2 linked regions of the Homo sapiens genome follow. The protein of the gene in region 2 interacts with the protein of the main gene of each other region in a pairwise test. Each region holds a gene or a part of one and is shown on either strand. Other genes may lie near its edges. The genes, in order: AHR and IVNS1ABP.

Region 1 (9,384 bases), on a different chromosome or scaffold from region 2:
ACAGAAAAACAGGTAAATGATACAAATGTAATTTATAAAAGAAAAATGTCATAGAAAAACGTAAAAAGGGCCGGGCGCGGTGGCTCACGCCTGTAATCCCAGCACTTTGGGAGGCTGAGGCGGGCGGATCACGAGGTCAGGAGATTGAGACCATCCTGGCTAAAACGGTGAAACCCCATCTCTACTAAAAATACAAAAAAATTAGCCGGGCGTAGTGGCGGGCGCCTGTAGTCCCAGCTACTTGGGAGGCTGAGGCAGGAGAATGGCGTGAACCCGGGTGGCGGAGCTTGCAGTGAGCCGAGATCCCGCCACTGCACTCCAGCCTGGGCGACAGAGCGAGACTCCATCTCAAAAAAAAAAAAAAAACAGAAAGATGTAAAAAGATGCCCCCCTTCAGTAATAAATGAAAACAAAATGTCTTAGTAACTAACAGAAGCACATAAAATATCAACAAATGTATACAAATATGAACACAATTAACAAACTAGACTTCTGATATATAAAAATAAGATACTCCCAAACTACAGAACATGTATTCTTCATAGGATTACATGGGATATTTTACCAACATAGACCATGTATTAGATCATAAAATAAGTCACCACAAATTTCAAAAAAACTGAAATCCATCCAGAGAATATTTTCTGACTACAATGGAATTAAGCTAAAAGTCAATCATAAAAAGGCAACTAGAAAAATCCCCAAACACCAAAAAGTACAGTAACACTGTATTTCTAAATAATTCATGAATAAAAATAAAAACAAATTAGCCAGTATTTTCAATTAAATAATAAAAATAAGATAGCAAAAGATGAGGGTTGTAATGCTGTACTTAAAGGGAAACTGATATATATGTTTAAGTATATATTTTTTAAAAGTTGCAAAAAATGATAAATTATACCCAAAGAAAGTAGAAGGAAGAAAATAATAATGAGCAGACATAATTAAAATTGAAAACAAATGTATAAAATAGAAAAAAATCAATAAACCAAAAGTTGGATCCTAATAAAGACTAATAAAATCTAATTAAAAAAAGTGCCTTCTAGAAACATTGATCAAGGGAGAAGTGACAAATTTGTAGAGGTACACACATACCCATGCACTCATATACATATGGTACACACATACTCATGTACTTCCATGGGTACTTATACACATACATACATTCATCATGTTCATGGGCTCAAAGATTCAGTATTAAAAAGATGTTAATTCTCCCCAAATGATCTACAGTTTCAAGGTAATTGCACTCAAAATCTCAACAGATTTTCAGACAACTGCTTTCTAAAATGTATATGGAATTATAGAGGGCAAAGAAGAACCAAGGCAATCTTGAAGGAGAACAAAAAAGGCAAAACAAACAAAATGACACACTCTGACATAGAAATATATAATAAAGATAGAATAACTAAGACAGTGTAATGCTAGACAAAATAGACAACTGCACTAATGGAGCTATTAATAGAACAACACAATCCAGACAGAGAACCACAGACAAAATCCCCTGATCAAAATACAGCGCAGCCGGGAAACAATGACCTTCTCGGTAAATCATCTTTTCAATGTTACTGGTCAATTGGGTATACGTATAATGGCTGGGGGGAATCAATCCTTACCTCAAGCTACAGACAAAAATCAATTCTCCAGAGTGGGAGGAAACATTTGCAATACAAATATTTGATAAAGGACTCATCTGCAGCATGTGTAAGAAACTCTTAAAATCACTGCTGGGTTTAGAGAATATATTCTAAATAAAGCATTGTTATATTTTTCTTCTTTTTTACCAATGACACTAGCTTTTCATGTGTCTTTCATATGCCCAAGATAAAACCCTAGAGTTTTATTATTCTTTCTATAGCTCTGCACATGTAGCTCTCAATCAAGTTCGTCAATTCTATCTTCTCAATGTCTCTCACCTGTGCTCTTCTTTCTAGATGAATTAAACTTTTCAATTTTTATTTACAGACTAAAGTCTGCTTGAATTATTTTTATGCTTTCACATAAGAGGACTTATGAAAACAAAACTGTTAAAACAGGAAACATTATTTGTGCTTACGTTAGTGGTCTCTGAGTTACAATGATATAATCTGGTCTTCCATTTTTATAAAGCAGGCGTGCATTAGACTGGACCCAAGTCCATCGGTTGTTTTTTGTAAGAAGCCGGAAAACTATCATGCCACTTTCTCCAGTCTTAATCACTAAAATAAAATTAAAAAATTAAATTATCAAACCCCCAAATCAATATAGTAAAGATTATTCCTAAAACAAAGCTCTTGTGACATAGTTCTGGATGTATTTCCTTTATCCCCAAAGACAATAAATTTTAAACAAAAAATAATAAAAGGCATGGAAATAGTTTTTCAGAGTTGTTTTAAATTTATTATTTTAAATGTTAAAGGGAAGATTATGTACCAAACAATTCTAGTAACACAGGAAAGTATAGAGAGAACATAAGTTGGGGAAAAAATTATTTTCATTTTAAATAGGGAATATTTTCCTACAGCCTAATACTTTATAATTTTAAACTAGAATTATTAACACTATTATTGTTACAATATTAACATAGATTTATGAATTGATAACGATGTAATTAAAAAATTCCCAAGCAAAACTTCATGGGCCAAAATGGTCATTTTTTAATAACTAAACAACAATATTTCTACATGGCAGGTGTAGACAAGTTAATGAACAAAGAGTGTAACCCTGGTTAATCATAATGATATGTTACTAAGTAGAAGTTTATCCATATACTTTACTTAAACACTTTACATTACGTAAGAATTTGAAACATGTACAACAGTATATGCCGTTTTCTTCTGACATGTTCATAAGGAACTACAACTTACTTCGGATATGGGACTCGGCACAATAAAGCATATCAGCTGCATGAATAAACTGATAACCTGAGCCTCTCGTGCACAGCTCTGCTTCAGTATATCCTAAAACAATTCTTCCTCTGTTTAAAATAAAAAAAGGTAAAATAAGAATGGATTAAGATTTAACATAAATGAAATAACCAAGATAAATTCATTGGTTTTACGCTAGTTTCTGCAATATGTTTTAGTTCACATTTAGAATTTCACATAAGTAGATGTGAAATTAAACACATCCATGTAAACTGATCTTCTTTGCTTATGATTGCAAATTTCAGTTTCAGCCTATTTTCTTTTCCTGAATAAATCCATGGAAATTAGTATGCTAAAAATGAATCTAATAGAGCAGATGTATGGGTAACAGAACATCTTTAATAAAAATCTGGAATGTTTTTATAATCTATTTTTAGGGAAGAAGGTTTTTCTAATTACCTCTCTGCATTCCCACATTAGAAAGGAGAAAAGCACTGATATGTTTGATATGATATAAATGTTTAATATCAGACTCCTGCTCACAATTTTCTGAAAGTTACTAAAACTTCTGGGGCTAGAAATCAAATAACATTTGTGCCATTTAAAAATGTAAAACAAACCAACATAAATGTCATCAGAAGAATAAACCTTACTAATATATAAGAACATCATCATTTGAGACAAGTATTGCAAAAATTAAAAAGATGATTTGTGAGCCTGATTAAATTATTTTACTGTAAAAGGCTACACTGGAAGAATGTACGATAATAGCCAATCTAATAATAAACAATATTACATACACTGTATGTTTTACATGCTAAGAGAGACTTACTGAAACATAATGTACATCCAATAAAATAAAAGTGAAAAAGTCTCACTTACTTGGCATCACAACCAATAGGTGTGAAGTCTAGTTTGTGTTTGGTTCTAAAGATAAAATTTTTGGTCCGGATTTCAAGTATGGATGGTGGCTGAAGTGGAGTAGCTATCGCAAACAAAGCCAACTGAGGTGGAAGTATTGATCCATCTTTCCCTTTCTTTTTCTGTCCATGAAGATACTTTAACTTCCCTTGGAAATTCATTGCCTTAAAAAAGCAACAACAACAAAAAAGTTCATTAAAATTAACAATATAAAATAGTGCCTTTTTAAAAGGCTCCATTATGGCTGCCTCTAGGGTTCTTGATAATTCCATAAATATTCCTGAAGCTGAGAACTGTTAGTTTCCTTCACTCCTCTCTCCATGGGACGCCCATTAAATCTATCTCAAAGAGTAATATGAAAAATATTCTAAAGGGATAAGTGAACCACTCCTTGTTCCTAATGGTCATAACATGAAAACCTATATCATTTTCCAAGCTTGCCATTACCCTATCATTTTCACCTCACACAGCTCCTTGCACACCAGGCAATCAATATATCCTGAATGGTGATAAAGTCCTAAAGTAAACATTCATTTTCAAGCATACATGAACTATATCACAGCTCATAGCATACTGCATAGTTCATAATCTTTTCTATAGAGGCAAAATATAATTTTATTAAGACACTAAAATGAATCATCATGAAAACATATAAAGAATGCAGAGCCCTACTGAGTAAAGATATGGAAGAAATTTAGAAGACAGGGAAAACAAAGGCACTTAAACATGAACATGATATATTTAATTGCTTAAAACAATATCAACCAGTCCAAGGGATGGTTCTGACATCAAAATAATAGCAGCACAAGGAGGAAAAGGCCCTCCTGCACACAGATATTCCACCTCAGACATACACTCACATGTCATTTAACAAAAGGGGCATGTTCTGTGAAATGTGTCCTTAGGCAATTTCATTATCCTGTGAACATCAGAGGGTAGGTTCACAAACCTAGATGGTATAGCTTACTACGCATCTAAGCTATACAGTATAGCCTTTTGTTCCTAGGCTACAAACCTGTACAGCATGCTATCGTACTGAATACTTAAAGCAATTGTAACATGATGGTAAGTATTTGTGTATCTAAACATAGAAAATATACAGTAAAAATACAGTATAAAAGACAAAAAATGGTATACCTGTATAAGAGCACTTATTGTAAACAAGGTAGGCAGGACTGAAAGTTGCTTTGGTTTAGTCAGTGAGTGAGTGGTGAGTGAATGTGAAGGCCTGAGACATTACCGTACACTACTATAGAGTTTATAAACACTATACACTTAGGCTACGCTGAATTTATAAAAAATATTTTCCTTTTGGCCAGGTGCAGTGGCTTATGCCTGTAATCCCAGCACAGTTTACTGTAACATTTTTACTTCATAAACTTTTGCATTTTTAACTTTTGACTCTTCTGTAATAACACTTAAACACAGTGTACAGCCATACAAAAACATTTTCTTTCTTTATATCCTTATTCTATAAGCTTTCTTCTATTTTTTAATTTTTAATTTTTTTACTTTTTAAACTTTTTTTGTTAAAAACTAAGACACAAACCCACACATTAGCTTAGGTCTGTACAGGGTGAGGATCATTAATGATCCTATCTTCCACCTCTACATCTTGTCCCACTGGAAGGTCTGCGGGGGCAATAACATGCATGGAGCTGTCATCTCCTGTGATAACAATGCCTTCTTTTGGAATATTTCCTGAAGGACCTGCCTGAGCCTGTTTTACAGTTAACCTTATTCTAAAATAATGATTAAAATAAAATAATTAAAAGTATAATACATTTAAAAATAAAGTAAAATAATGATTAATAGTAAATACATAGTGATTTATTATTGTTTTATTTTCAAGTATTATGTATCATATATAATTGTATGTGCTATACTTTTTATATGACTGGCAACACAGGTTTGCTTCCATCAGCATCACCATCAACATGTGAGCAATGCTATGACATCATTAAGTGATAGGGATTTTTCGGCTCCATTATGATCTCATGGGACTACCATCATATACATGGTCTGTTATTGACCAAAGCATCATTATGCAGGACATGACTCTACATACTAATTGTTCATGAGCAATAACACTGGGAAAACTGTCTCAAAGCATAATTCTAATTCTGGGTCAGCAAAATCCTCTTCAGAAATAAACACATAAACAAAAATCATTGCTTGGTAATGTTAATTTAAGATTTGATTATCTGTTTCAAATTCCTTGTTATTCACAAAAAGAATATACAATATACTTTGTATTTTCTTCTCCTGTACTTGGTAACATGAGCTAAGGATACAATGAGATAACAGACAAGTCCACTCTGAGGAATCCTAAGCTGTTCCCTACAGTCAACTCCTATGCAGGTGTTCAGACTTTGTAACAAGAAAACAGCATCTCCTATCAAATGATGATTCCACAATCATGAATATACAATCGTTTTTCTATGTGGCAGTTATTTGAGACATATGGAAAGGCCATAATTTCTCTGTCTAGCAGGCATTCAATCCCAAGATGGTAAGCATCCTCCTATTAAAAAAGGGCTACATAATTCTCTCATACCTTAAAAATCCTAAAATAGTCAAAATACAAGGCTTCGTGTTATTTCACTCAATTTTTGTTACTATATCCTAAAGAACAGTTTTCTGAGTTATAGAAGATAGTCAAAATCAGAAATAATTACTTTAAAATGTTACTTTCCTTTATCAAATTATTTGGTAGCAGATTTTTAAAGCTGAAATCAAAGATAACCAAAGAAAATTGGCTTGTTTTTTCTATAACTTAATGTTAAACTAAATTTGGGCTGAAGATGCCTCTGCTCCTTAAGTCCTTACCAAGGAATTGCAACTTCATTTACTATATAAGCTAACGGAAAGCCTAACAGTAGAATTAAACTTTTGTAACCAAATAGCTGAGTCTCAGTCAGTCACAGGTGGCCAACTAATCAGATCATCTTCAAATAAGGCAAATCCCAAGCTGTAATCAATCAAGCCATTTCTGTACCTCACTTGCATTTTCTGTTCATAAATGCTCCAGCCCATGTTTTTAAGTGAGCTCTCTGAAGCTCTCTGGTTCTGAGGGTTGCCTGATTTGGGAATAGTTCTCTGCTGAATTATATTTTGCTAAATTAAATTTGCCTCAAGCTTTTATTGTAACAATAGTAAAAGCCAGTATCATAAAATTTTGTACCTTACCAGAAAACCAGATGAATTATCCAGCAGACACCTTAGACGACATATGAAGCACCTCTCCATTAAAGGAGAGTTTTCTGGAGGAATCTGGTCTGGGTTATAACAGACTACTGTCTGGGGGAGACCAGTGGCTTCTGTAGAAATAAAGGCAAAACAAAATTTACTTTCCATTTTGCTGTAAAATTAAGCACTTGAATAGGTAAAATTTGTATTAGTTTCTAAACTGGAGTCTGTGTTCTGAATACAAAAAAATCATTTTCAAAAGAGCTAATGACAAGAAACTAAAAGTTTATTAAATATCACTTTTATCAGATAGAACTTGCATAATTTTTTAAATTTTTATTGAGCTATCACTGTCAACAATTTTCATATTTTCTAATGCATTTTTGTTTTCTTAACACTTTAACAAATTTCCAAAAACATTTTTTGCATTGAGAAAAGCATTTTTATACTTGCATATGCTAGCTTACTTTTTTCTTTGGTGCATTTTAAACACAATAATTTACATGCACTCAGGTATCAACCTTGTACCTTCCTTCCATCTTTCATGAAGGTACTACTTATTTTTATAAAATACATTACTGACTATGGCAATACTCTGTTGCCTGAAACTCATTAAATGGCTCTCATTTGCCAAAATATTCCTTAGCTCATCAGGCTCTTTGTGACCTAGCTGTGGCCTATGATTGCAGACTTTACATCTTTCCACTACTTCCCTATCATGGAGTTCTATGACCCTACAGGTTCCCAGCCTCCTTTCACAGACTCATATTTAAAAACTACCAACACTATTTTTTGTACCATCAATTCTTACCTTCAATTCCTTGTCCAGACTCTGTACACTGAGAAGGATTTAATGCCCAGTGTAGCTGACGCTGAAATTCAGCTCGGTCTTCGGTATGGATAAGTTCATATACACTCTGATGTATGACATCAGACTAAAGAAAAAAGATACAAGGAATACAACAAAAGGACTGATTAAAAAATATGGCTAAATTAATTTTAAAGCCTATTTAGATTAGTGGGTGCTTGCTAGTGGTGATGAATACGAATTGAATGATTCCTAAAATTCCCTAGTCACCTAAGATAGAACCTAAGGTAGAAAAAGCTAAAGAGACTGGCACTACAACAGATAAGCCAAAAGTTACTTGTCATCAGTTCCCAACATGAATGCTCTTGCTCAAATAAGTCACATCCCCATTCCTTAAATGCAACATATTAAAATCTGTTTATGTTCCATATTCATTTGTTAGTTTTTAGATTCTTATCTCTTCCATGCAGCTTTTCCTAACCACCCCAGGCCTCTTTGACTTCTCTAAGCTTAATGGTATTCTTTATGTATTTCCTTCACTGTTCTCTAAAATTTTCTTCATATAAAATTTTCACTCCAAGTAGACTCCACAAGAGCAAGGGATTGTGCCTTTACCATATTAAACCCACTTTCCTTCTCTTGCCTCTCACCATTTACTACGGTGCTGAGTCCTTAGTGCTTAAACCAGAGTTTTCCTTTTTTTTTAACTGCAAGTTATGATAAAAAATACATTTCCATCTGTCACAGGTGTGTGCACAGACATAAACACATGGAAAAGTTTCACAAAACACTTACCATTATTACATGAGATAACACTGTGTATTCTATATTATTTTATTCTATCCTAAACAACTAAAAAACAGTTTGATAGTGATCCACTGTCTCGACTGCATACCCATGAGCGAGTCATAACTTGCAGTTTTAAAAATGGTGTCTTAATCTACCACTTGCGTCAGATATGAATATTCTTTTAGGAAAAAAATCCATGTGTATATGCGAGAAAAAAATGGATTGGAAAATGGCTAATCTCTCTGATTTTCTTACTAATATAAATCACAATATCAAATCCTGATTAAGACAGTTATATAATACATTAGGCTTCAAACAGGCTTTTCTATGGACATTAATGTATTTTCTTTAGAATGCAAGAAATCAGGAGTTTAGACTTTGTGGTAGCAGTAGTAGCTAGATACCACTACTTTAGTCATCTACACTTAAATCTTCCTAGGAACCTAATCTTCTAGTATTAAATCATCTTGATGCCAACCATTACACAATTTCCAAAAGTTGCATCTGAAACACAAGTTGAAATATACACACCCCCTGTAACAAAACCCTTCAGTGGTTTCCACTGGGTATATAATATAGTTGAAGCTCTAGTCTATATAACTGTTATTAAGACCAGCAGCCTTGTGAGCTTAATAGAAATGCAAATTCATGGGCCCCACTGTGAACTACTGATTCAGAATATCTGACAATGGGGCTCACAGGGATGACCAAGTTTTATCAAGGTCTTCAGGTGATTCTTGTGCACAGTACAATTTGAGAACCAGATATATGAGAATAGCAAGCATTCAAATGTTACAATCTGTTCTCAAACCATAAAAGATGTTCTTGCCC
Region 2 (9,384 bases):
ATTTAATTATCATATTTAAATACTGGATATCTCAGGAGAAAACTATTATTACCTGCATTACAACGGTTAGTTCTCAATTCTGGAACAGGAATCCAGTCATCTATGTTTGAATCATACATCTCTCCACAACTCAGGTCATCTGAGTGGCCATTTGATCCACCTACCACATAGAGCTGGCCCTATGCCAAAAGTGAGAGATGAGAATTTCTAACATCCTGAAGTTACGAGGAAAAAGCTAAATAGGGGTTGCTCCTGCAACATAATGCGCTTACCATGAGTACAGCCATTTGAAATCGGGCTCTTGGTGTTCTCATGGGAGCAAGAAAGGACCAGTGATCTGTATGTGGATTATAGCATTCGACTGTTCGAAGACATTCCTCTCTGTTATAGCCACCTGGTAAAAAATAAAACCATAAAGATTTATGTTTAAAATATTAAACTGGACCACGGTTTCCAGTCCTGTAAGTTTAAGAAATCTGCACAATGAGAAAAAGTATTAAAACTTTTTAAGGATGCCTTAGTTGATCTTTTAACTAAGTGCTTGTAATAGCTGAAAAATCGCATTATCAGTACAAATAAACTGCTTAGTCTTGGCTTGAATATTAGAAAAATTTAGCCATGACATAATTTTTTTAAAAATTAGATACAGACATTGAACTGAAGGTTAGCCATATTCAATAGTATTGTTATTTCCCTATCTTATTGGATTGCCGTGAAAGATGGCATATTAAACCCTCTCTTTGAAAGTTTGCATGTCACAAAAATGCCCATCTACATGCTTAGCCAGTTGAATGCTTCTGTTCTTACCTGCAGCTATGAGTTTGCCATTCATCTCTGCTGTTCCCAGACCAGATCGTGCGTACTGCATAGGAGACATGGGCTTTTCGATTAGCTCATCTTGTTGCATCTCAAAGCTTAAACTCTTACTTAGTTTTGGAGTACTTGTTGGTGAGCTCTGTGGGCTGTTTCTCCCATGAAGAAAAATGACACAGAATATACCATCCAGCACAGCCAGGCACAAGTAAGTGTTATCTGTAAGCACAAGAGTTCCATGTTTAAGATGTAATTATTACTTTTGGTTTGTGTATATGATCCTGAATTGGACTCCAGTCTCCACATCCCAGACTGGAACAATCTGCTCTCGTTTTCCAAATTTAATTGCTTCTGAGTTTTTTCCTCGAGTAGTCAATTTAAGAGGTATTAAATTGGCAACACTCCTTCTTAAAAATAGGTAAGCTGAAAACAATCTGGCAAGTGTCATATACTTACTTGAAGTCTTTTCTGAAGCAACGATTTTCCACTCATGCTTAGGGCTTTGTACTGTAGCATTTGGAGAAGAGAGACATCCAGTTGAACTGCTACTTATCTGCTTATGGCCATTCTCACGTGGTGGCTTTTTCTGCAAAATCAAAAGGTAGCTACAGAAACCTAGCCAAAGACCACATCTGATGTACCTTTGTTCCTGAGCTATTCCACAACACTGAGTATCCTTCACCTATATATGACATTTATAGGACACTAACTTTAACTCAAGCCAACACTTTCCAAATGACACAAATTACTGGCATACTTCCATCTCCACTCAATGATGAGACAACTACGCCTACACAATTAGCCTAGGTAAGAAAAAGCTCAGTTTTAACAATTTGAAAAACATGTTGCAAATCAAGACCTCAGCAGAAGAAAAAACCAATCTATAATTATTTTTATATTAAGTATAGAATCTTTTAAAAGAATGCTATAAATTTAAAATAGTGTGAATTAACAGAGAATACATTTAACCCACTATTTTCATGAAATTGTCAAACCTAACTAAATCATATGTACAGGTATCCTTCATACAATGCCAGCAAAACGTAAGCAGATATAGATTCATCCAGTTTCTCTGAAAGTACTTGACAGGAAAAAAGTGGCAATTACAAGAAACACTTAAAGAATATTTCTTTAGGATTACCTTATAGGTATTATAGAGTGGTTTTCTAGACAAAATTACATCAAAACACAAGAAAATAGTAATCAGAAATGAAACATTACTAAAAACAACCAAATATTCACAAAAGTAGAATATACAGGAATACTAAAGAGGGAGAAATGAACAAAGCTGCCAATTTCCAAATGATTGTAAGAGAACTACTTTACACATGTGTTCTCATGTATGAGTTTTCCTTGATGGCTTCCTTCCAATTACTTTAGCCTTTGCCACTTCCAAAGGATATGATCATATGGAATTGGAAGAGTAAAGACTACTCTGAGAGGAACTGCCAAATGAACAGGTAGCAACTTCAGCACCTGGCCTAGTTTGCTCATCCCACTTGTGCTGGTCCAGATGGCCAGAACACATGGATAGGTAAAATTTCTAATGGAAATTTCTGTTGCTAGTGGAAGCAAAAAGCCATATAACAAGTAATTGAGAAAAAGATTTTGCTAGCTACTTGAAGCTATTAAGAAAAAGCTATATCAAAAGTTAGGCCTGAGTGTGGTTACAACATACGTAGGCTATTTTGAGAAAAGGCAGGGAATGTATCATTATCAATGGTTATGATTAAATTCCACTTAGATGTTTACTATGTACCTAGGTATTACTAGGTACTTTATTTACATCATCTCTTTTAGTCCAGTGAGGGTGATATTATCTACCCATTTTATAGATAAAAATATTGAAACTCAAGAAGATATGCATTGCCCAAGGCAATACAACTAAAATAAAGATTAGGAATTATGAAGATAAACCCCATCCTTTTTATACTATGACAAGTTATGTCATACTATAAAACAGATTTACACTATGACAGGCTGTTTTCCACTGTTACTAAAGTTGTGAATGCATCTTTCATATCACTTTTATACTATGAATATTAAGAATAAAAAATAAGGTTAGACTTATCTAACCTTATCTATTATTATGAATTACAAGGTACATAAAACCTCATCCCAACCTATGGGAAGAAGGGATCCAAATATCACAAATGGATGATGCTTACATTGAGGCTGTACTGAAGTAAAAAAACTGTTCTAATGTACAAACTATAATTAAGAGAAAATGACTGTGAAAGAGAAAGGCCCAAAAGCAATGCCTAATAACAAGCCTAATATAGAAATGCTGATTAAATCCTTTATATGTAAAGAATATATCCCTAAACCTTATTTTACATGACCTCCCAGAGAACTTGACAGTGTTTAGTCCTCCTTCAAACTTTCTTCTCCTACCTTAGGTAGCTTTTACAACATGATTAGATTCTTATTGTCCTCTGACTTTTCTAATGGCTTCTTCTCAACCTCCTTTTTCTATTCCTGAAGTCTAACATGTGTCCCTCGCATCCTCTTCATGATCTCTATTCATGGCATCACATTCTAATGAGTCACACATGTCAGAATCCCACTTATTCTCAAATTCTTTCTTTTCCCTAATCTTGCTAAGCAATCACTAAGGCCTGCTAAGTCAACCTTTGTAAATATAAATGTCTATTTATATATAGACATAAATAAAAAATCTATCCTTTCTCCTTCATGCCCCTAGATTAATCCCTCATCATTTTTTTAAAACCTGAACTACTGCTGGCAATAGTCTATAAACTGGGCTCAAACTTTTATTGATTTTCTGTGTCTGGTTATAAAAATAGGAAGGGTCCAAGGCAACAATTTTAGAAAATAAAACCAGAAATCAGTTGGGATATTCCAGCCCAAAGACTGCCACCTAATAGACTGTTCCCCAGTTTTTCACCATTACTAAAGTGAATGCAAAACTTTCGTATCACTGTATTCTTACCTAAGGCTTCCCACTGCCTATAGGATAAAGTATAAGCCCCATTCAGGGAGCATTTACCTACTTTCCCAGTCTTATGACCTGCAATTCCAAGAGTATCATCCTCACAGATACTCTTTGCTAACACCTCTCCCTTTATCTGCTATGCAGACTCCTCTAAATCCTAACACTGCTCAAAAGTTACCTCTTGTGTGAAATATCCCTGGCTTCTCTCCTGTCTCACTGTGTCCTCTCCTTTAGGCCTTTCGTAGCTACCTCTTATAAGCCTGTATTGTTTTGCCCACTCTTAGAAGGTCCTACAAGCAGAAACTGTCTCTTACACATTTTTGTGTTGCCATACCGAACATTATGGCCTGCCACTTATTGGGCACTCAACCTCTGCATGTTGAAAATGTACTTTTAAAATGTTAACTCAAAATGTTTAGAGTTAAGGGGGAAAATATCCTCAATATATTCAAAATGCACAAACATAGGTTCTCAACTAATTCAAATTCCAAAACTTTTAGAAATATTCACTCACTGTTGCCACAGGACACCTGAGAGAGCTAACACCTGATAATTTGTAACCATATAGGCTACTACTAAGTCTACCACTTACCCTCTGATTTTTAAAGAAAAGCATTCCTTAGTCTGGGCTGAGTCGACTGCTTTATAGCTTGTCCCTCAAAAACATAATTTGAGCTAAAGGCCAAATAAAAATATATACTATATGACCATTTATATAAATTTTTTCAAGCATAGCCAAACTAATTTAATGTGTCAGAAGGTAGGATAATGGTTTCCTTTGGGAGCACTATACGGAAACGGTTGGGAAGAGGCAAGAGAAAGGCTGCCGGGATGCTAGAAACCTCTTCTTGACTTGGGTAGTGTTTACACTGGTAGGTTCACTATGTGGTAATTATGACTTGTGTACTTTTCTGTATTTGTCCATAAACTTAAAAAATTTATACTTGAGAAGTTTGTTCTCTAGTAATTGTTGATAATGTGTCTGAATAATTATGTGTTTACTCATAGGGGAAAAATGAAATTGGATTTTATAAAAGGCAAAGTAACTCAATCAGCACAGTGGAACTCTACTATATTTTAATTCATCTTGGTTAAAGAAACATCTAGATCAGGTTTTAACATATGATCCACCACTTTTAGACTTATTACATTGTATAGTCCATCTTAACTATACCATTTCTAATTTCCAGTAAGACAGCTCAGTAGTTAAGGTAACATCCAAAAATTTCTTTCATAGCCATCAACAATTTAAGTCCCCCTGCCCCTTTTTAAAAAAAACTATCAGTCATGCCTGACACAAACAACTGCTTTTCATAATCTTCCCAAATAATTTCTATATTGTTCCATCTTATTGGCCTTTACTGTTTGTAATTCCTGCTTTATGAGAAAAAAATTTCAATAGGGTTTCCTAATTTGTTAATATCTTTTCATGTGGCAAAAATACTAACTCTAAGATATGCTTGTTTTCTCCCAAAAATGTTTCTGTCCAGTTATACCAATGAAATTGGTCCACTTTCCTTTATTAAAGGAAAATTTAAGTATGCTATCAAATTCTCTAGTCAAATTTTAACCTGAGGTTACCTCAGACTGTGCAATGTGTACCTGCACAAACTGAATGTGGTCATCATCACTGCCAAACACCTCAGCCTGTCCATCTAGTAGGTTCCCATCAAGCAGCTTGTGATCAGCTGAGTAGTACAAGGTTTGAACCTGCAAAACAGCAACAGAACACCCATGTGGCTACGGTCACCATGGCTACTCCACTAGTATGCAGATTACACAAACGCCTCAAGGTAACCTCCAGTGTGCTTCTTGAGCTTCTTGACATATTACTCTGGCAGGATCCGGAGGTAAAGAAAAATACATGTCATGGTGGTAAAAATTAAAAAACAAAAACAAAAAACCAAAATCAAATACAAAATCTTCCAATACTGGCTGAAGAGTCGTTGGCTTGATTGGCTTGAAAGAAATCTTCATTTTTTTCATAGCTTCTATCATATAACAGTAAGAAAAAAAGCACTAGTACAATATATACTCTTAAAGAATATACATATTTACAATAAAATACTGAATATAGTTTACACCTTTGCAGATAAGTGGTCTGGTTTGCATAAACATATTTCCTTCCTGTAAGCAATGTCAAGAAAAACAAAGAAAAAACAAATGCAAAAATTCAAGCAAGCTGTAGAGTCATCTCCATTGAGACAGATGCAAATACATGGCAAATGCATCTGACTTTCAAGTGGGAATCATAGAATTTAAAGATAATCTGTTAGCCCTTTTAGACCATAATGATGACAGTGTTTCTGCAGGCCTAACAGATTTGGTAAGCCCTCATAAAGGAACTCCGAAAGGTTTAAGTGGAGAGAGAAACTCAAGGTTACTCCACTGCTCCACCTGCGTGTTTTCAATTCCCACCATTTCTCCATCAATTTTATCTTGTGTATTTTTTTTAAAAGTAGCCCAAGTTAAGTGAGTGACTATATGTATGAACAACACCATTGAAAAACACACAGCTTTAAAGACAAGAATCCTGTAAAGGAGTAAACACCATTAAATCATCATCGTTCTCTGCCCACAGCGGATTTTTCTTAGGAGAACTGGGGCAGGACTGCTGCTTCTTTACGTGTCAATACACTTGAGGTTTCTTCTTGTTTCTTCAGTCTTGGGTATCCTAGTTTTGTTAATAAACCTATGGGGAGATAAATCAATGGGGAGGAACAACCATTAGAAGCTTTTACCTACTTGTCAAATTTAAAGCAAAAACCTGTGAAGAAAAATTAAGAATCTACAGAAAATTTCAGTACCACTTCCCATTTCTAAAGCAAATTACATGCTACTTTAAAGAAAGTTAACAGCACATAATAAGCAAAGAAATAAAAAAAGAAAAGCAGAAGACCAAACTGAACAGTTCATTCAGCTCACCTGGACACCCCCCCTGTTTCTCAGCTTAGGGGTACCTATAGCAAAATTTAAATTCTTTAGGGTCATGGTTATAAAATAAAAGTGAAAGGGAATCCTTCATGTTATAGCAAAATAATTTTTAAAAATGGTTGAATCCCATTTACTTTAAAACTAACCTCTTCCATCAGCTCTTCCAGACTGTCTCCATTCTCCCAGATGCTACGCTGCACCCAGTTGATTACCTTTGTATATAATTTGCCATTGCTGGGCAAGCAAACATTATCTTCAAGCATTACCTCCAACTAGAATTGGGAAAAACAATGACATGGATCAGTGTTGGGCTCCTAGTTCTCAGCTTAATTCCCAATTTCATAATAAAGTTGTCACAGATGCACAATTCATTCCATACATTTACTCTAATTTGTAAGGAACCAGGAATTTGTAAGGAACCAGGAATTTGTAAGGAATTTGATTACTGAATCAAAAACAAAGTAAACAAACTGGTAGGGAGAAACCCATTACGCTGCTAAGAATAACAATATAATTTCAATGTATTATTTCATAATCATTACTCACTTGCTTGAAACACAGACCAAGATTCCACGCCTGGAACTAGATAGTATATATCTGTTTATAGACTTTACTCCTTACCTTTAGCCTTGGAAGCTTAAGAAACTCCTCCTCTTCAGAAATTTGTAACAAATGCTCCTGAATATAAGCATCAACCTTATTCAACAAACGGGAGTCTCCCATACAACTTGCAAAATTTCGGTAAGAGATGCAGCTGGTAACATCCATTCTAGACAGTAAATAATCACCACAAACCTTGGAAAAGAAATATATGAGTGCCAACACTTACATATCTTTTATTCAACAAATATTTAATGTTCAGTGTGGTAAAGACTATGTGAAGATACAAAGAATCAAAAATCACTGTCTTAATACAACAAATGTTAATAGTGGTAATAACACGTATACAAATGATAAACATCTAATTATGCCATACAGATATGTAAGTTTTAGTTTAAGGAGAGGTACAACAAATTGAAATGCTATGTAAGTTCACATAAGTATTTTCAAGTAGAATAATTTGGTAAGGCTTCATGAAACGCAGTATCTGAACTGGGCTCTACAGGAGAGATGATGTTGATGTTGAATGCAGACAGAAGTAGAGAAGATGCTGCAAACAATTTAATTTGGTTGGAGAAAAGATAACTAGGAAATAGTTTTGGAAAGACAGCAACTATATAAGGGAAAATCTAGAAACTAAATGCAGGGATATGTACTGTAAATTAAGGAAGGATTTTTGAACAAAGGAGTGGTATTAGAAGAAGGGCTAGCAAATCAAACTTTTTCTTAAAGGGCCAGATAGTAAAAGCATTTTAGGCTTGTAGGCCATTCTGTTTGTCACAACTGCTCAATTCCGTCACTGTAGCTGGAAAGCAGTGTAGACCATATGTAAATGAACACACATGGCTGTGTTTGAATAAAACTTTATAAAAATAGGCAGCTGGCCAGTAGGCCTTAAGTTTACTGACCCCCATGCATTAGGGGATTAAATGCCTGTTTTCCAAAAGTACTTTTTACTGGCATTAAATTCTAGAAGGAATACTTTTAGAGAGCACAGGAAGTTTAGGAGAACACAGAATTGAGGATATAAGTTATGTGATTAACTCTTAAGAAAAATATTAATTTTAATTCATGCTATCAAAGGCTGACATAGCCACCCTACCAGAGAAGATTGCTGAAAGGGTCAGACTTCAGCCCAAATTATCTGAGAAGAAGTGTGATCTTGCTACATTATTATAGCCAAACAGTTAAAATAACATATTGACTACTCTGAGGGAAAAAAGGGACATGTTCAAGTCCTTGAAACTAACAAGATGTTTTATGACAAATTCAGCATTGCAATCACACAAAATAAGACTCCATAAATGATTTTATTTACTTCTGATACTCTACCTGCTTTACTCGATCCATCTTCAGCTTTTTTGCTGCAGAATAAACATCTTTTACCAATTCCTTATCTGCTTTCAACCTATTTAAAAAAAAAGTTACTTATGATACCAAAGCCTTAAAACACACTTAATTTAAATATATGTAGCAAGACTTGGAATTTTCTGAAGATATTCCCTAATTATATGGTTTACTTCAAATGTACTTACTGAGCAGTGTAGGCATAATTCAACAAGACTTCAACAGCTTCTGGATTGAGATCATCAAATTTAACGTGAGAAATTCCATGAGGATCACTATCACTATTAAAGATTTCAAATAAATAGGGACTGCAGCAAGCTAGCACTGCTCTGTGTGCTAACATTTCATGGCCACAGACCTGAAATTATGAAGAATTATAATTATAAGTATTGTGGATTATGTGCTTCTCTAGCTAATTACTATATCAGATTCCTTTATCTTACATTTCTCAGTATTCTTTTAAAAAATCATTTCATTAAATGCCTATGAAAAAGAAATAAGCAAATCTAAGAACTTATGGCTTTTAGTAATAAAAAATTCTATAAATTTTGAATTAAGTTTTAAATACCTGAAGTCGAACATCACAGAACTGGCCACTTTTCCTCAGGGCATTTAATTTGGCAACAGAAGACTCAATAAAATTTTCATCCTCAAACATCAAATATCCATTGGGAATCATTTTTCCTTATAAATTTGGCTAGATGATGAAAAGAAAGCTGAGTTATTTTACTTGC

The links.
Region 1: the proteins of IVNS1ABP (region 2) and AHR interact in a two-hybrid assay, tested with the Homo sapiens proteins (one study listed by BioGRID).

Annotation. Positions count from the first base shown.
Region 1 is NC_000007.14:17,328,459-17,337,842, reverse strand, and holds part of AHR (aryl hydrocarbon receptor), read right to left. Parts: intron 7,892-9,384; coding exon 7,768-7,891; intron 7,088-7,767; coding exon 6,957-7,087; intron 3,932-6,956; coding exon 3,729-3,931; intron 2,957-3,728; coding exon 2,847-2,956; intron 2,199-2,846; coding exon 2,057-2,198; intron 1-2,056. UniProt on the Homo sapiens protein: Ligand-activated transcription factor that enables cells to adapt to changing conditions by sensing compounds from the environment, diet, microbiome and cellular metabolism, and which plays important roles in development, immunity and cancer.
Region 2 is NC_000001.11:185,300,165-185,309,548, forward strand, and holds part of IVNS1ABP (influenza virus NS1A-binding protein), read right to left. Parts: intron 9,348-9,384; 5' UTR 9,330-9,347; coding exon 9,219-9,329; intron 9,009-9,218; coding exon 8,839-9,008; intron 8,712-8,838; coding exon 8,636-8,711; intron 7,499-8,635; coding exon 7,325-7,498; intron 6,976-7,324; coding exon 6,850-6,975; intron 6,464-6,849; exon of another isoform or gene 6,324-6,463; coding exon of another isoform or gene 6,321-6,323; intron 5,480-6,320; coding exon 5,372-5,479; intron 1,400-5,371; coding exon 1,270-1,399; intron 1,033-1,269; coding exon 808-1,032; intron 395-807; coding exon 273-394; intron 180-272; coding exon 53-179; intron 1-52. UniProt on the Homo sapiens protein: Involved in many cell functions, including pre-mRNA splicing, the aryl hydrocarbon receptor (AHR) pathway, F-actin organization and protein ubiquitination.